Regions from separate parts of the Homo sapiens genome. Here region 1 is linked to region 2. The links come from fine-mapping of genetic effects on gene expression. A gene starts in region 2. The other region holds a variant in brackets. All regions are shown on one strand. Distances are between the middles of the regions.

The links. PIP is the estimated chance that this variant, and not a neighbour inherited with it, causes the effect.
Region 1: its variant is fine-mapped to the expression of VASH1 in whole blood (TOPMed, PIP above 0.99).

The regions. Positions count from the first base shown.
Region 1 is chr14:76,716,338-76,724,667 of GRCh38, reverse strand. The region is part of intron 1 of LOC105370577 (a long non-coding RNA gene); the gene reads left to right. Among named protein-coding and RNA genes, the nearest start is that of VASH1, 41 kb to the left of the region's middle. RefSeq lists an enhancer at 4,009-4,168. The variant C/A (reference allele first, on the strand shown) is at 3,950.
Region 2 is chr14:76,757,847-76,766,176 of GRCh38, reverse strand. It overlaps VASH1 (vasohibin 1), which reads right to left and starts at 4,709. Exons shown (of 7, transcript NM_014909.5): 1 at 3,047-4,709. The coding sequence starts at 3,355. RefSeq lists silencers at 4,183-4,452, 4,553-4,742.

The DNA.
Region 1 (8,330 bases), 42 kb after region 2:
AGTCTGGGGTATGTCTTTATTAGTAGCGAGAGAACGGACTAACACAGGGTCAAATTCAAGAATTAAGCTATGCTGCTGGTAATATCAGGGTCACACCACATATGTGATAAGCCTATCAGAACATCACAGGGTTTAAACTGATACTACCATTTATGATTTGGAAAGGTTCTAGAAATTAAGAGATGCTTTGCTGCATTTGTAACTCTAAGAAATACAAAAGGTTTGGGTGTGAATTAGGTTTCTCTATTATATACAGGGTGTTAAATCAGACTTTGCAAACAATCCTAGGCAAAACTTACAAGGTCTGAAAGCATTTCCCAGAAGCTATTCACAATGCCTGACTTAAATACTCTGTATATAAAATTATAATGTAAAACTGTTGTTCCAATTTTTTTTCATAAAAGCCAAATACTTAAAACTCGATGTTTTATTTCAATATCTATCATATCATTGGGCAGGTTAGGATATGTAACAAATATTCTAAGCTCCTAAGAATGGATGGAACTATGTCACCTGTCTGTGTCTTAGCTGCCCAGGTAGAAACTTGGTTCTTTAAAGCTGTAGGGGAAGAAAATCTTTACCTCAACCATCTTAGGGTTACTGGTTGGGACTGATAATTAAGATGACATAGGCAGATGAACAGGAGAAAAGCACACAGGTTTTGACATGTACATGGGATCCCCCAAAGGAAAATGAAGATCTAAAGAACTGGCAAAACCTAAGTGCTTATATACTAGGTTGAACAAAGAGAGGCAATTGTGGAAGAGTAACTAAAATATACATGAGGACTAAAAGAACGTAAGAATTATTTTAACAAGGTCTGTATGTACAGATTTCTCTTGGTCTCAACTTCCTATCTCTGATGATAAGAATGTTTCTTTCCTCCTGGTATAGGGAGGGGACCTTTCACATGGGAGATTTATCTCCTGTTTTTAGGAAGAAAAGGGGAGGTCAGAGCACCCCTTTTGCAAGTGCCTTTAGTTCAAAATAATCAAGGCAAGTGGCATATTTTGGGGATGGCATATTCTGCCACCCTTCAAAGCCATGGACTGTGTGTATGACTGTGGATCTATTTTTCATGTTCTCCATCCCCTTCCTATATACCATGTTGTTTTGCAAATAGTTGATGCACAGTGAATTTTGGTAGATTTTTAAAAGCTCTTCACTGTACTCTATTAGCACAGATAGTCTTACTATTCAGTTGCATTTCTAAATGCTGTTAGTGCAACTATTACAAATGCAATATGTGTTCATTGCAACAAGTGGAAAAAGTACAGAAAAGTGTAAGGAAAATAAAAATCCATCATGATTCCACTGTATACCAATAATCACTGCTGACAGTTTCACATATACCAGACTCAGATGTTTTTGTGCATGAGTGGATTTATATAGTACACAGTTGATAACCTGTTTTTTTTTCTGAGTATTGTCTATAGAATTCCCATCATTAAGTATATATCAACATCACCATCTTTACTGACTTCATAGTATTCCATTTATGTATGTGCTGTAATTTCAATCCCTATTGCTAAATATTTAGGGTATGTCCACATTTTCTCTACTATATGCTGCAATTCAGCAAATATCTCTGAACATACATTCTTGGGAAAAGTTCTCAAGAGTGAAATTGCTGTTACTTTCAGTTTAAAATTTGATTATACTCCAAGTTGTTTGATTTTTAAGGATGTTGAACACCTGTACATATGTCTAGTTTCCCTACTTTGAATATAAGCTTCTAGAATAGAAGGAAGAAATCAAATCTTGGAAGTCTCTGTATCCTCTACAAGTCCTAGCACAGCTCTGGGTGTTGGAAATGCTTTTGACTGCAAATCATGGAACACCTGTGCAAGAGTAGCTTAAATCAAAAAGCCACTTAATCATCGCCCATAATTAAGAAGCCTGGGTGTAGACAGTTCAGGGGTTCGTGCAGCAGCTCAGCGAGGTCCTTCCACCCTTTTGGCTTTAGCACACTTCCTGCCCTGCCTGAGCGCCAGCACATTGTCTTCACTCGGCACGCCCAACCCAATCTAGAAACAAGGAGGTGGGCAAAGGAGCTCTCCTCTTGCCCCTCTTTTTTTTTTTTTTTTTTTTTTTTTGAGACAGAGTCTTGCCCTGTCGCCCAGGCTGAAGTGCAGTGGTGTGATCTCAGCTCACTGCAACCTCTGCCTCCCAGGTTCAAGCGATTCTCCTGCCTCAACCTCCTGAGTAGCTGGGATTACAGGCACGCGCCACCACGCCTGGGTAATTTTTTGTATTTTTAGTACAGACGGGATTTTGCCATGTTGCCCAGGCTGGTCTTGAACTCCTGAGCTCAGGCAATCCGCCCACCTTGGCCTCCCAAAGTACTAGGATTACAGGCGTGAGCCACTGTGCCTGGACTTGCCCCTCTGTTTTTATCAGAGAGGAAAAGATTTTCTAAAAACAACCCAGGAGAATTTTTTTTGTATCTTATTGACTAGGCTACTTCTAGCGCAGAAGAGGCTGGGAAGGTATCTTTGGCCTTTCATCCCCTATGATGAAAGGCAAGCTCATGGGAAGGAGTCAGGGAAAGACTGTTGCGTTGGCCACCAACAAAAATGGGGCCCAGTGATAGGACTGAACATATTCCCAGAGTTGGCATGTAGATCATCTCCTGCCCCCACTCCTCTTCATCTCTCAGGGAAGAAAACGAGTTTTTATGGTGTCACCAGCCATGGGATCTCTGGGGACCCAGTGTCACCAATTCTGCCTCCCTCCTTAGCGTTTTGGTGGGGCTTTCCTGTTCTTGTGGGTGTCCTCCAGGGGAGACTGGTCCTACAGGGGGCCCAGGGCTGTGGGAGGTGCCGTCAGGGCATCTCAGCAACTGAGAGAGACTTGGGCCACACCCGTTTTTCAAGCTCCCTATAAATTAAAAATACAGGAGAAGAACCCTAACAGCATTATAAAGTTTGCAGTTTGGCCCGGCCCGGTGCCTCATACCTGTAATCGAGCACTTTGGGAGGCCAAGGTGGGCGGATCACCTGAGGTCAAGAGTTTGAGACTAGCCTGGCCAACATGGTGAGACCTCGTCTCTACTAAAAATACAAAAATTAGCTGGGTAGGGTGGCAGGCGCCTGTAATCCCAGCTACTCGGGAGGCTGAGGCGGAAGAATCGCTTGAACCCTGGAGTCAGAGGTTGCAGTGAGCTGAGATCTTGCCACTGCACTCCAGCCTGGGCAACAGAGCAAAAACTCCATCTCAAAAATAAATAAATTAATTAAATAAAGTTGGCAATATATTTTAAATGTTTGCCACTAACAGATTCATTCCTTAATACAAAGAAAACACTGCAATAAAATTGGACACCATGGCCTTTAAATTTATGAAAAATACTGACTCAGTGTAGTGTAGCTGGTGTGACCCAGGATGGGGACAAGTTCAAAATTGAAGGTTGAGCAATCTTTTTTTTGGCAACGGAATCTCACTCTATTGCTCAGGCCGGAGTGCAGTGATGCAATCTCCACTCACTGCAGCCTCTGTCTCCTGGGTTCAAGTGATTCTCCTTCCTCAGCCTCCCGAGTAGCTAGGACTACAGGCGCTTGCCACCCCGCCTGGCTAATTTTTGTATTTTTAGTAGAGACAGGGTTTCACCATGTTAGCCAGGTGGGTCTCGAACTCCTGACCTCAAATGATCCACCCACCTCGGCCTCCCAAAGTGTTAGGATTACAGGTGTGAGCCACTGTGCCTAGCAGGCAGTCTTCTTACAATGCAGGTGTTTTGTTTGGAGGTCTTTGCAAATCTAAATTTGAGGTGCTTCATGAATCGAATATATTTTGTATTTTTAGTAGAGACAGGGTTTTGCCATGTTGCCCAGGATGGTCACAGCAAACAGTGCTCCTGGGCCCCCTGTGATAGGCCCCAGGGCAAGAGTTAAGGCCCAAAAGGACTGAGGCCTCAGGTGCCGCAATTTCAGAATTAGTTACTCATTTC[C/A]TTCCTCTCCTCCGGTCTGATTTTCCCTTCCCCACCAGCCTCCTGCGCTCCTCTCACTTCCCTTTCTCCCCTCCTAAATTCTCCATCCTCTTTTCTGACCTCTTCCTGCCCTCCCCTTCCTCCCTTCCTTCCCTCCTTTGAAAGTCTGGTCCTCTAGAGCTGTGGAAAAGACTGGAATCTGAGCCCTGGCCTGCAGCCAGCAGGGAGCCAGGAGGAGCAGCTGCAAGGTCAGACCAGGGTCACATCAGCTGCTGAGAGAGAGAGGAAGTGAGGCTGCCTGGGCTTCCTGGCCCTCAGGGACAGGCTTACTCCACATGGCCCCTCTCTGCACCCCTGTTCCTGCTGAAAGGTGCCAGGATATGCCACCCCAAAACATACCACTTTGGCATAAGGATTATTTTGAGCTAAAGGCACTTGAAAAACAGCAGATGCAAGAAGGGCATTCTAATCTAGTTTCTTCCTGAAAACAGGAGATACGGACTTTCATTTGAAAGATGCCCTCCCTGTACCAGGAGAAAAGAAACATTCTTTGAGTTACTCAGAAGACACTCTTTGTTTGCTGGGAAGATTGTGGCTTATTTTAAAAGCAAAAGCAGCATCCCTCACCCAGCATCACTTTGCTCAGGGCTGCCTTTTGTTAAGGAGCTCCTTAAAACCAAACTCAGGAGGCATTTTCTTTTTTCTCCTATGACCAGAGTGTGTTGGCAAACAGGCTGCTCCATGCCTAGTGTGGCCACTCCCAGCGCACTGGTCGGGAATGGGAGGGAGGAGACTCTGTCCCCTTGACCCAGTTTTGGGGCGAAATCCAAGAGCCTCCTTGGCTCTGTGCGTCTGCCTCTTTGAGTGTCTGCAGCACCAGCTCTCCACTGGTTGTTTTAGAGTTTCAGGGTCTTAATGATGTCGAGACCGTAATGGTGCCAGGGCATTGGTGCTGGTTATTGGTTCCACAGGTCACTCCTGGGCTGGCCCTCAGTCTTGTCCACATGGCTCTGGGGAGGTATGGGGGTCACTCTGCCGCTTCATGTCACAGAGCCCTCCATGCCCCGTCGAGTCCTGTCCACGCAGGCCTTCTCTCTTGGGTTGCTCCTCCTGAGACCCATCCCTTCTCTGTTCTCATCCTCTCCCCTCCAACACCAGCCCAGGAAAAACCTTTCCTACATTTTGGGTCCTTACCTGTAATCTCCTCTGTTCTTCCCAAATGTTTAGACTTTAGGGATTGGAAGCTGGGAGTTCTTAGACTGCTATCGACTTTCTTTCCTTCCACCACTTTCTTCAGTAAAGGAGCACAGAGCCCAGGATCTGCTTTAAAGGGGCGGAAGGAAAAACGGGGCAAGAATCTCGAAAACGTGGCCCCACTTCTGAGTGCTCGTCACCTGGCACAATACCTGGTACACAGCAAACAATTGTTAAACCAAAAAAAAAAAAAAAAAAGCTGGGCACAGTGGCTCATGCCTGTAATCCCAGCACTTTGGGAGGCCGAGACGGGTGGATCACCTGAGGTCAGGAGTTCGAGACCAGCTTGACCAACATAGAGAAACCCTGTCTCTACTAAAAATACAAAATTAGCTGGGTGTGGTGGCACATGCTTATAATCTCAGCTACTCAGGAGGCTGAGGCAAGAGAATCACTTGAACCCAGGAGGTGGAGGTTGCAGTGAGCGGAGATCATGCCATTGCACTCCAGCCTGGGCAACAAGAGTGAAACTCCATCTCAAAAAAAAAAAAAAAAAAAAAAAAAAAGAAAAGAAAAGAGAAACATGGCAGCAAGAGAATGAATAAATGCAGGCCACCTGGCTCAGAGCCGCAGGACTTGAATTCAGATCCCAGCCCCCTGGCTGACCTCCCTGTGTAAGTTCTACTGACCTAATCCATAAAGGAGGGGAGGGATGAGTTCATCGCTGGGATTCCTTCCAGCCCCCAAACTCAATATTTTGTATCCACATAGGAAAAAGAAAGAATATTTATGCAGTCGTCCCACTGAACTGGAGCAGGGAAGAAACCTGCCTGGATGATTCAGGCTCACATACACAATCATCTCCAAATATGCTTCCCTTCTGTCAAATGCCATCTCCTAAATATCACCAGAGCAACCTGCGGAGAAGGCAAGGCTGAGTTGATTGTTCACCGTGGTAAGGTAGAGTACCCCCTCCACAAAGCCTCAGTAGCTTCCCAAAGTGGGAGGGCAAAGTGATTTTTATTGAGACTTTGAGGCCTGGTTTAAGGTGGCTCTTTCAGTGCAGAGGTGGCATGCTTGATGGGGGTTGCTAAGATCATGATTGGTAGACACAGCAAAGTGAGGATTTCTGGCTGAGGCGTTCAAAGAACCTTGGGGTATAAACTGTCTTCCTATTGAACCTATAAACTGATGCTTCCTGTTGAAGACATGGTGTGTCCTTCAGGAAGTTCCTGGGATGAACAGTAGAGTTATTTACAGCTTTTATCTTCCTGGGCAAGCATTTTCTGGAATAATAGTGAAGTTACTTTGATGAGGACAGTGGAATAGTAAAGTCATGTTAATATAGACAGTGAGCTATGAGTGGTTTGATTCTCATCCCAAGCTGTCTTGGTTCGCTGTTTGAATGACTGTGATGTCCCCTCCACCAAGAAGGCTGACGCCTATGAACATGTGTACTCCCTTTCCCTCTTGGTCCAGCTGGATTTGGCCCATGAAGGCAGGGAGCAGAGTGAGGCTGGAATATTCATTTCTGTTCTCTTTCTGCTGGTATTACCCAGCAAGCAATGGGCTCACTGCCTGATGCACACACAAGCCAATACCATGGCACTGAAAACCTTTATTGGGAATTGACTGGCAAGACAGGAGGCAAGGCTGAAATCTATGTCGCCTAGCTGGTGGGCTGGGGCAGGTTTTATAGGCGAAGGGTAATGAACCATGATCTGATTGGATCTTGCAATGAGGTGATGCTGGGGAGGCATGATCTGACTGGATCCTGCCACGGGGTGACACTAGAGCTCAATCTGATTGGATCCTGGATCCTGCCATGTGCAGTCCACCTCTGAAAGCAGTCCTTGCTCCCGGCTTCCAGCACTTAGGTTCCACTTGTGGTTGCACACTTGGTTCATCTGGGCATGTTCAGGTTACTTGACTTTCAACTTGGGGATCCATGGCAACCAAAAAACAACTCACGACTTTGTTACATAAAAGTTGAACCAGGGCTGGGCACGGTGGCTCACGCCTGTAATCCCAGCTCTTTGGGAGGCCGAGGTGAGCAGATCACGAAGTCAGGAGATCGAGACCATCCTGGCTAACACGGTGAAACCCCGTCTCTATTAAAAGTAAAAAAAATTAGCCAGGTGTGGTGGCAGGTGCCTGTAGTCCCAGCTACTCAGGAGGCTGAGGCAGGAGAATGGTGTGAACCTGGGAGGCGGTGCTTGCAGTGAGCCAAGATTGCGCCACTGCACTCTAGCCTGGGCAACAGAGCGAGACTCTGTCTCAAAAAAAAAAAGAGTTGAACCAGATTGGTCTGGTGTGATTACACTGGGTTGCCCTGGGTTGGTTGCCTCCGCCTGTTTCAGCCCTCAGCTCCTATCACCAGCCTTCTCAATAGCTTCTCTCTTGAGTTGGGGTAACTGCTCCCCGACTTGCCCTTTTATGCCTAAGGGAGCCTAGCTCCTAGTATCCCATGTGGCTCTTTCTCTCATTTCTTATTCCCAATGAGCATGTGTTGCTTTCCTAAAGGCATTTCCATAACATTATACTTTTAAAGTCAACTGTGTGTGAGTATAAATGCTATTGGACATCAGGGGAGAACTCGGAAAAAAAAAATGTTCATTTTTATTGATAAACTTTTTAACTAAGGCAATTTTCAAAGAAAGCTAAAATCATGACATTCCTACAAACATAAAATGGACATGTTAAAATTGTATTTAGTGCATCATTAATGAAGGCTGGTAAGATGTGACAACCGGTTCAAATGAGAAGTCAAAAGAGGCACAAATTTATATGGAGAAAAGCAATGTTGAAGTGTATTTACGAATAGAAGGAAATATATTTACGAATAGAAGGAAACATATTTCAAATAGAAGGAAACTGGCTTTCCTTTGGAAAATAGGAAGTAAATTGAACCACCTCGGGACAGAATGTATTTGCATGCCTGCAAACAGGAATTATTTACATTGCTATCAGTTATCTACAATTTACAGATTTGAAAAATAGCTCAAAGGCAATGAATGGCCCAGAGACCCTAAAGCATCGCACTCAGATAACCTGGAAGGGTATGCTCTAAAGGATACACAGTTTCCCAATGAAGCACACATTTTTTCCTACGTGACATTTATTAAGCAGTTAATACTTGCAGGCAGTGATCCAATCCATGGGGACTGATAGTCTGCTTGGAGATTTAAGACACAAAAGAGCTGAGCCG
Region 2 (8,330 bases):
TCTCCAAAGCGCTAGTGGGGTGTCGATGAACACTCACTCCCTGCTCCATTACTGGGTATCTATTAGAGGCACTTAATGAAGCATCACATGCTTTGCATCATTAATTCCTCTAACATCCTCTTGATGGGCATTGCTATTAGCTCCATTTCACAGCTGCGGAAAACTGAGGCACAAGAAAGTTGCCTGTCTTCCTCATATAAGTAGTTATGGGAGATCAAGGATTTGAACATGGTAGCTTTGACTCCAGAGTGCTCTCCTTTTATGACACCAGCCTGCAGGGGTCCCAGACTCAACCACATGCAGGGGCCGGGCAAGTAACATACACGGGGCAGGCAGGCCTGGTAGGTGAGTGGTGGAGACAGTGGCAAGATGGGGGAGTAGGACTCACTCCCCAGCCCCAGCTGACAGCTGCCACGTGGGACTGCAGATTCCCATGTGTTCCCAAGTCTTCTTATTTTCTGAAAAGATGCCAAAACTCTGGATCTTTATGTGAGAAATCTCCCAATTTTCCCAACAAAACACTTCTTGAGCCCCACACTGTGTGGCCGCTGTAGGGAATGACCCTGTGCCAGCTCCAGTGGCATGGCCCCTAGGGATGGTAAGGGCGGGGTCAGCCCACCCTGCCACTGGCACCCTGGCACCCAGGCACCCAACCCACGCTGCTTCTCTCCAAGGCCTCCTGGACTCCACTGCACTCCCAGACTCTAAGGGTACCTTTCTACTCAGAGCCCAGGTAGAGGAGGGACCTCATGCAGACTCATGCGATTTATCTGAGATCTGTGGTTTGAAGAGGGGGAGGTTCAAATTTTTCCAAACCTCTCACAAAATTCCTTCTACCCTAGCGATGGAAGTCTAGGGGTCTGTCACAACACAGCCCCCACCCCTAGACTTCCTTCATCCGTGTCTTTCCTGTACATGAGGACTGAAGATGACAGAATGACATTACAGACCAGTTACTAGTGAGCTCACTATTTCTTTTTTAGTTCCCAGGAGTGGTGGCAGTTCTGCAGGGAACCATTCACACTCTTTTATGGCCTGATTTAGACATAAGCAAGATGGCTGGAGAGCTGCCCGACTTGTTCACGTGGGAGCAGGGTGTGACTCTGGCCTCATCGGGACAAATGATCTGAGCAAAACCCAGTCTTGCCGCTTGATAAAGCACATAAGTAAAGGTGATGGATGTCTGGCCGGGCGTGGTGGTTCACGCCTGTAATCCCAGCACTTTGGGAGGCTGAGGTGGGTGGATTACCTGAGGTCTGGAGTTTGAGACCAGCCTGGCCAAAATGTTGAAAATGAAACCCCATCTCTACCAAAAATACAAAAATTAGCCAGGTGTGGTGGTAGGTGCCTACAATCCCAGATACTCAGGAGGCTGAGGCAGGAGAATCACTTGAACCAGGGAGGTGGAGGCTGCAGTGAGCCAAGATCATGCCACTGCACTCCAGCCTGGTGGAAAGAGTGAGACTCCATCTCAAAAAAAAAAAAAAAAGGTAACTGATATCCAATAACCAGGTACTGGTTTGGGGCTTTACAGTTTGTTAAATACTTTAACACACAGTCTCTCATTTCTTCCCCACAATCAACCTCATCTTATTGATAAGAAAACTGCATCTCAAATAGGTGGAAGAGGCCATATAGATAAGCAGGTGACCCCTACCAATGTCAATATCCTTTGACGCAATACTTTCGCTTTCAGAATTTTTCCCAAGGAAATAATCAGAGATGAACCCCAAAATTTATATTTTAGAATGTTCACCATAGTATTCATTTTAGGAATAAAACTGGAAACAACATCCAACTCTAGGGGATTAGCTAAATAAATATTAAGTCAGTGCAGAGCACATTTATGCGGCCATTCCAAATCAATCTACATTTTGTTTCCCCTGGAAACATTAGGCAGTATTTAAACCTTCAACCTTTGATTCTCTTTTTCCCAGAAGACACTTTCTGATGGCTGTACCAATAACTTGGTAAAAACAAAACGGGCCACTTGTCCTCATGTCTAATTCACACTAACTTCCATTCTTCCTAGCCCCCTTCCTTCCAACCTGGGCAGGCAGGGCTAAGCACTGGGCTCTGAACTCAGTCCAAAGGGCTCTTTTTTGGAGATTTCAGGCCTCTGCATTTGGCAAAGTGCCTCCTAGTCTTGATCATGTTTTTTTTTTTTTTAATATCTGGCATGTATTTCCATATAGCAGCGTACAGCACAGAAACTCTCAAATACCCTTTCATTCAGCAAACACACACACTAGTGCCTGTTCTGTGCCAGGCACACAGGAGGCCTTGGGAAGACAAAGATGAATGAGATACAGCCTCTGTTTTCGTTGGTGACACAACTGAAGTATAGCTGTCATGGAGGAGGAGTTACAGCCAACACAGAAAAATTATTTCATTTTATGCTTCTCCATAAGACCTCTTCTAATGTGCTTGAATCTACTGTCCAACAGAGAAGAGGACCTGGACACTTCCCTCCACCACCACCCCCCGCCCTTCTCCTGAAGACCTGAAATTGAATCTCAGTTCTGCCACTTACTGGCTGTGGGATCTTGAGTTCCTACTTGAGTTTTCAGCTTTCTCATCTGTAAAATGGGAATCCAAACTGTACTTACGTCACAAGGCTGTTGGGAGAATTCAATGACATAATGCACGAAAATATTTTCTCAACATATGAAGCCCTGCATCTCCTTAGTCATTCATTACATTTGTCTGCTCACAGTTCTCTGGCTTGGCAAGTGTCATCAAGCAAATGAGACGTCAAGCCATCCTACTGTGTTTGTTAGTTCCATCTGCTGCTGTCCCCTCCTGTAAAACGTGGACATTTTAAAAGACAGCGGGGAGGGCCTCCTGGAGACAATGTATGTGAGCCTCCCTCCTAGAATGGCAGTGAGAGAAAGTTCTCCTAGACAGGTATGATATCACTGCATTTTAAAGATCTTACCGAGCCAGTGGTCCCCTGCCCCGTGGGAGGAGAGTGTGGCTTCACTCTTGGCCCCAAGGTCACTAAAACCTAGACTGTGCTATCACCCCCCTGACCCGTGTGTCTCACCTTGGGCAGGTCTGTGGCCCCACGGATCCGTTGCGCCACCTTCTCTCCATCGGGGTGGATCTTGGCCACGTGTTTCCACATCCTTTCCCAGGTGGCCTCATCCACAGGTAGCCCACCCCGGTTGACAAAGAAGGGGACGCCTCCGTCTCGCAGGTCCTCTTCCCCTTCCTCTTCTGGCTCCTCATCTCTCTGGGCTGAGGTTCCTTCGCTGGTCTCCAAACGCCTGACCCCAGAGGGGGCGGTGGCCGCAGCGGACGTTGGAGTGGCACCGCTGCTGCCACCCCCAGCCACCTTCTTCCCCCCTGGCATCCCTAAATCTTCGAGGGGGGTGGTGGAGGCGGGAAAACAACTGGCTCACAAGAGGCCTCCCACACACCGGCTGCAGAGATAACACATGGCCAGAGTGCAAGGCGCCTTTAAGAAATCAGGGCGTGGCTCCTGTACAATAAAATACGACTTGATAAAAAAAATCAGTGCAATAAGGTGAATTAGGGTCCGAGGGGGTGGGTTGTCTGGGGTCAGCCTTGGAGGCCTTGTTCTGTTTGAAAAACGGAATAAAGAGAACACACCCCAACTTGGCAGCCGTCACAAAGCACCCCCATCTAACTGCGAGAACAATGACGGGCAGCAGTGAGGGCTGGCAGAGCGGAGAAAAGTCGGAGGGAAACTGAGGCCAGACAGCTCGGACCAGCGGCTGCAGAAAGGACAGAGTCAAGGCACGGGTGCCCACTGGGCGCCCTGGGTCTCAGTTTCGGAGGGAACAAAATCCCCTACACAACTCTCGCACGCTCACATCTGCGCGCGCCCCAAGGAAGACCGAGGCGACTCCCGGCCGCGCGAGCTCGGAACCAAGACCCCCGGGCGGGAGAGCGGCGCTGGGGGGCGATTTCTCCGACGCGACGAGACAAGTCCGGGAGCCAAGACTCGCAGCTGGCCGGGAGCGGGGAGGGGGCGCGCGCCGACGCGCACATTCCCCGCCTGCGGCCAACTCCCTGCACAAAGTGGGCTTTGTCTGGGTCCCCTGTCCCCTCGTCCCCAGAAACAGCGGCGGAGTCCCCAGAAAGGGAGCGGGCGCGGCGGGGAGGCGAAGGCTGCGAGCCCCGAGGCCCAGCGGGTCCCCACTCGGGCGCGTCTCAGCGGGAGGACGGCTGGCACCTGGCGCCGCGCTGCACCAGCCGAGCCATCGCAGGGCACGGGGCCCGCGGCTCAGCGGGACCGGCTCGGGCGGCGCGCAGGGGCCAGGCTGAGGTCACTGAGCGGCGGGCTGCGGCCGCGGGGTCGCTGCCTGGGACTGGCTGCAGCATGGGCGGTGGCGCGGCCCGGGCGGGCGGAGGATGCTCCGTGGCTGTTCGCTCGGGCTGCAGCTGCCCTGGCTGAGGGTGGAGGAAGGACCGCGGGGCGGGGACCGCAAGCCCGGAGGCTCGCGCAGCCTCGGCCGGCGGATGTAGCTGGAGGCGAGTGACGAAGCCGGGCGAGCGCGCGCTGCGCTGGTGCCTGGGGAGCAGCCCGCCAACGCGGAGCCCGCCAACGAGAAGCCCACCAGCCGATCGCTGCTCGGCGAAGCTGGGGCCGCCGCTGCTGCAGCCCCGCCGCCCCTGGGCCCCGCTGCCGCCGACCACGTCCCCTGCCAGCCAGCCGCCCACCAGGCTCGACTACGGCCCGCGCCGCGCATGCGCTCCGTCCCCCCCTTAAAGGGCCAGCGCCTTCGCGCCCAGTCCTCCGCCCCCCGCGGCGGTGCCTCTGTCCCAAGTTACCCCAAGGACGCCGGTGGGCATTCGCTCCCTCCTCACCCAGCTGTCAGGGCGCCGCGAAGCCGGTGCGAAGCTGCGGAGGACGTTTTCAACGTGCCAGAGGGAGCGCAAACTCCATGGAGATTCCTAGCGCAGAAGGAATTCCTGCGGTCGGGAATTTCTTGAAAAAGATTCTTCGCAGGGGCCCTGAGCCGGTAGGACCGAGAGCACTGGCCTGGAAGACTGGGATTCTAGACCGGATTCAGTGCCTGTGTTGCTTTGGGACGTTCAGCAGTTCCCTTCCCTCTGTAGGCCTCAGTTTCCCCATATCCCAGCCGAGGTGGTCACAGTGAGTGAGCGCAGAGTCCCTCCCAGCGCGCACAGTTCTTAGAGGAGGACATCTAGGGATTGAGACGGGGGGTCACTATCTCTGGAAACGAAAAGGGTTAAAAGTCACCCTGTTTTATTCGATTGCCTGCACTGGTGGGAATGGGGTGCGCAGAGCTCACCCCTAGACCATCTGCCTAGACCGGGCTTTGGACGCTCTGGACCCCGCGGACCAGGGTGGGACCGCGACGTGGGCGTGGGAGGCAATGCTTGGGGAGGGTCCGCTGGCCTAGAGGAAGGTGAAAGTACAACCAGCTGTGGTGCGTGGTTGGACACTGGACGCACCCTCCGCCTCCCTCATGCCATAGAGTTGTAAATGGTGGGAAAGGCACTATCTCTAGGCTGAAGCCAAGAACTTTAGGAAGAGACGGCCGAGTGTGTGCTTTAAGATGCTCCCCCTCTCCCCTGCCTGTAGTTAGCATGAATCACAGTCTTGTGGGAGAATGCAGATTCCTTGGCCTTAGCCGGCAGATTCAGATTCCTTAGTTGTGGGGTCGTTGCATTTCTTGACAAGCTGAGGTTACTACACAAGGGCTGGGTTAAAGGCCTTAGAGAGACCCCAGGGCCTCAGTGGTTTCACATCTGTTCTCTAAAGCTGTCCCTAGTATCTGAACTTTCTGGGTACCCTGTGCTCCCGTAGCAACCTCTTACTACCTCCAGGGTCAGAAACCAAGGGTTATCAGTGATGGGAAGGATTGCAAGACTCCAAGAAAGTTAGTTCAGCCTGGATCTTCTTAAACTCACTAAGGCAAGAAGACTCCAAGCGTAGAAAAATCACTAGGGATCAACAACTATCACCCTGTATTGTATAAACCAAGTCTCAGAGGGTAATTTCCCCAAACTCACACAGCTAGTAAGTGGCAGAGCTAGAATGTGAACAGAAGTCTTACTTCTTCAGACACTTGTTTTTCACTCTATACATTGCTTCTTGTGTTAGCCAAGTGGTGCTGGTTTTAAAATTGGCTTGCAAGCTCTTGACCATTCTTTTCAAAAGATGGGATCTAATTCCTTTCCCCCTGAATGTGGGATGTACTTGGTGACTGGTGTCTAATGAATAAAGTGTGATGAAAGTGAAGCTGTATGACTCTTAAGACCAGGCCATAAAAAGGAGACAGCTTCTTCTTGGTTCCTCAGAAGAAACCAGCTACCATGTTGTGAAGAAGCCCAAGCCACATGGTGAGGCCACATGAGGGTGTTCTCGCTGACAGCTGCTGCTGGGCTCTCAGCCAACAGCCAGAGTCAATCACCAGATCATGGCAAACCGAGACTTCAGGTCTTGCCAGCCCTCGGCCTTTAAGTCTTAGAGTTGAGGTCCCAGACATGGAGCAGAGAACAACCAGCCCTGCTGTGCCCTGTCTGACTTTCTGTCCCACAGAAATTGAGAGAGGATAAGTGACTATTCTCGTTTTAAGCTGCTAAGTTTTGGACTAACTTGTTACGCAGCATGAGATAATACCATGTGTTTTCTGAAATGACAAATAAAATAGATGTAGGGTATTCATTCAAAGAGTAAGTACTCATAGAACATCTTCTATGTGTTTGACTCTGTACTGGGCACTGGAGAAGCAGTAGTGAACAAGAGGGACATGGCCTTTGCTCTAGTTGGACTTATGGCCTACTAGTGGAGGAGATAGTTAAGCATGATTTCCATAAGGTGCTCTGCCAGAGGGTTATTCAGGAAGCTGTGGGAGTGCATACCCAGAGCAACTTCCCAATCAGGTGAGGAGCTGGGAAAAGAAGAAATGAGTTGGGTACAAGGTCAGCATGGACTAGGCTAGAGAATTTTCTGGCATGTGTGCATAGAAGTGGAAGAGGGTATGTGTCAGGCAAGGGGGCTTGCAAATAGATTAGAAAATGGTGAAACTGGAAAGAGATGTGTATAACCCAGTCTTATCTAAGCCAAAAGCCCAGAGAGAACAAGTGACTTAACCTGGTATGGCACAACTTTTGAATTGGTCTCAGATCCTGGGTCCTTCATCAAGCCCTCCCATGACTCCCCACACCTATGCCTTGGGAACAACTCCTCCAACAGACACTTGGGTAACTCCTTATTTGGCTCAAAGCTTTCGTGACCGTTATTTTTCTTTTTTTTCTTTTTTTTTTTTTTCCCCTGAGACAGAGTCTCGGTCTGTCACCCAGGCTGGAGTGCAGTGGCTCGATCTCTGCTCACTGCAGCCTCTGCCTCCCAGGTTCAAGTGATTCTCTGCCTCAGTTTCCTGAGTAGCTGGAATTATAGGTGCCTGCCACCATGTCTGTCTAATTTTTGTATTTTTAGTAGAGATGGGGTTTCACCATGTTGGCCAGGCTGGTCTCCAACTCCTGACCTCAAGTGATCTGTCTGCTTCGGCCTCCCAAATTGCTGGGCTTACAGGCGTGAGCCACCGCGCCCGGCCCTCATGACAATTATTCCTTTTGCTGTCTTCACAAAAACCGTGGAAGAGTTAGGATGAGTATGATTTCCATTTTACAGATGAAGAAAGGATGCATAAGAGAAGCTAGGCAAATTACATACCTAGTACAGGAGCAGGCACATCTGAGCTGCTGGGTACAAGTCACTTTCATGATGACAAGGATGACGATAATGACGCCTAACTCATATCATGTGTCACATTTGTTATCGTCACACTCTGGACTAATGGTCTGCAAATGAACGCATGTTGTCTTAGGGCATCAACACTCATATTAATCTGCTCTGACACATTTTCTATTCTTGTGACACAGAAGCTAGAGTGAAATTTCCAGAGAGAAGAGTCTGTTGACTTAGCTTGGATCCTTGGCTAGAGGAGGATGGGGCAATTTCATTAGCCAAGACTACAGGTGGTTGGGGGAGAAGGACTGCCCTAAAGGTAAATGGGGTGCTGTTAGTAAAAGAGGGGCATGGAGGCACACAGGTATAGATGTGTTTATAAAAGGTAGATGTTCTGACTCAACTTTTTGCTGTTTTCATGTTCATAATTTATGAGGTAAAAGAAGAAAAGAAAAGGAGTTTAATCCCAAGAAAGAATCACAGAGCAGAACTGTCCAATAGAAATTTCTGCAATGGGCCAGGCGCAGTGGCTCATGCCTGTAATCCCAGCACTTTGGGAGGCTGAGGGGGGTGAATCACGAGGTCAGGAGTTCAAGACCAGCCTGGCCAATATGGCAAAATCCTGTCTGTACTAAAAACT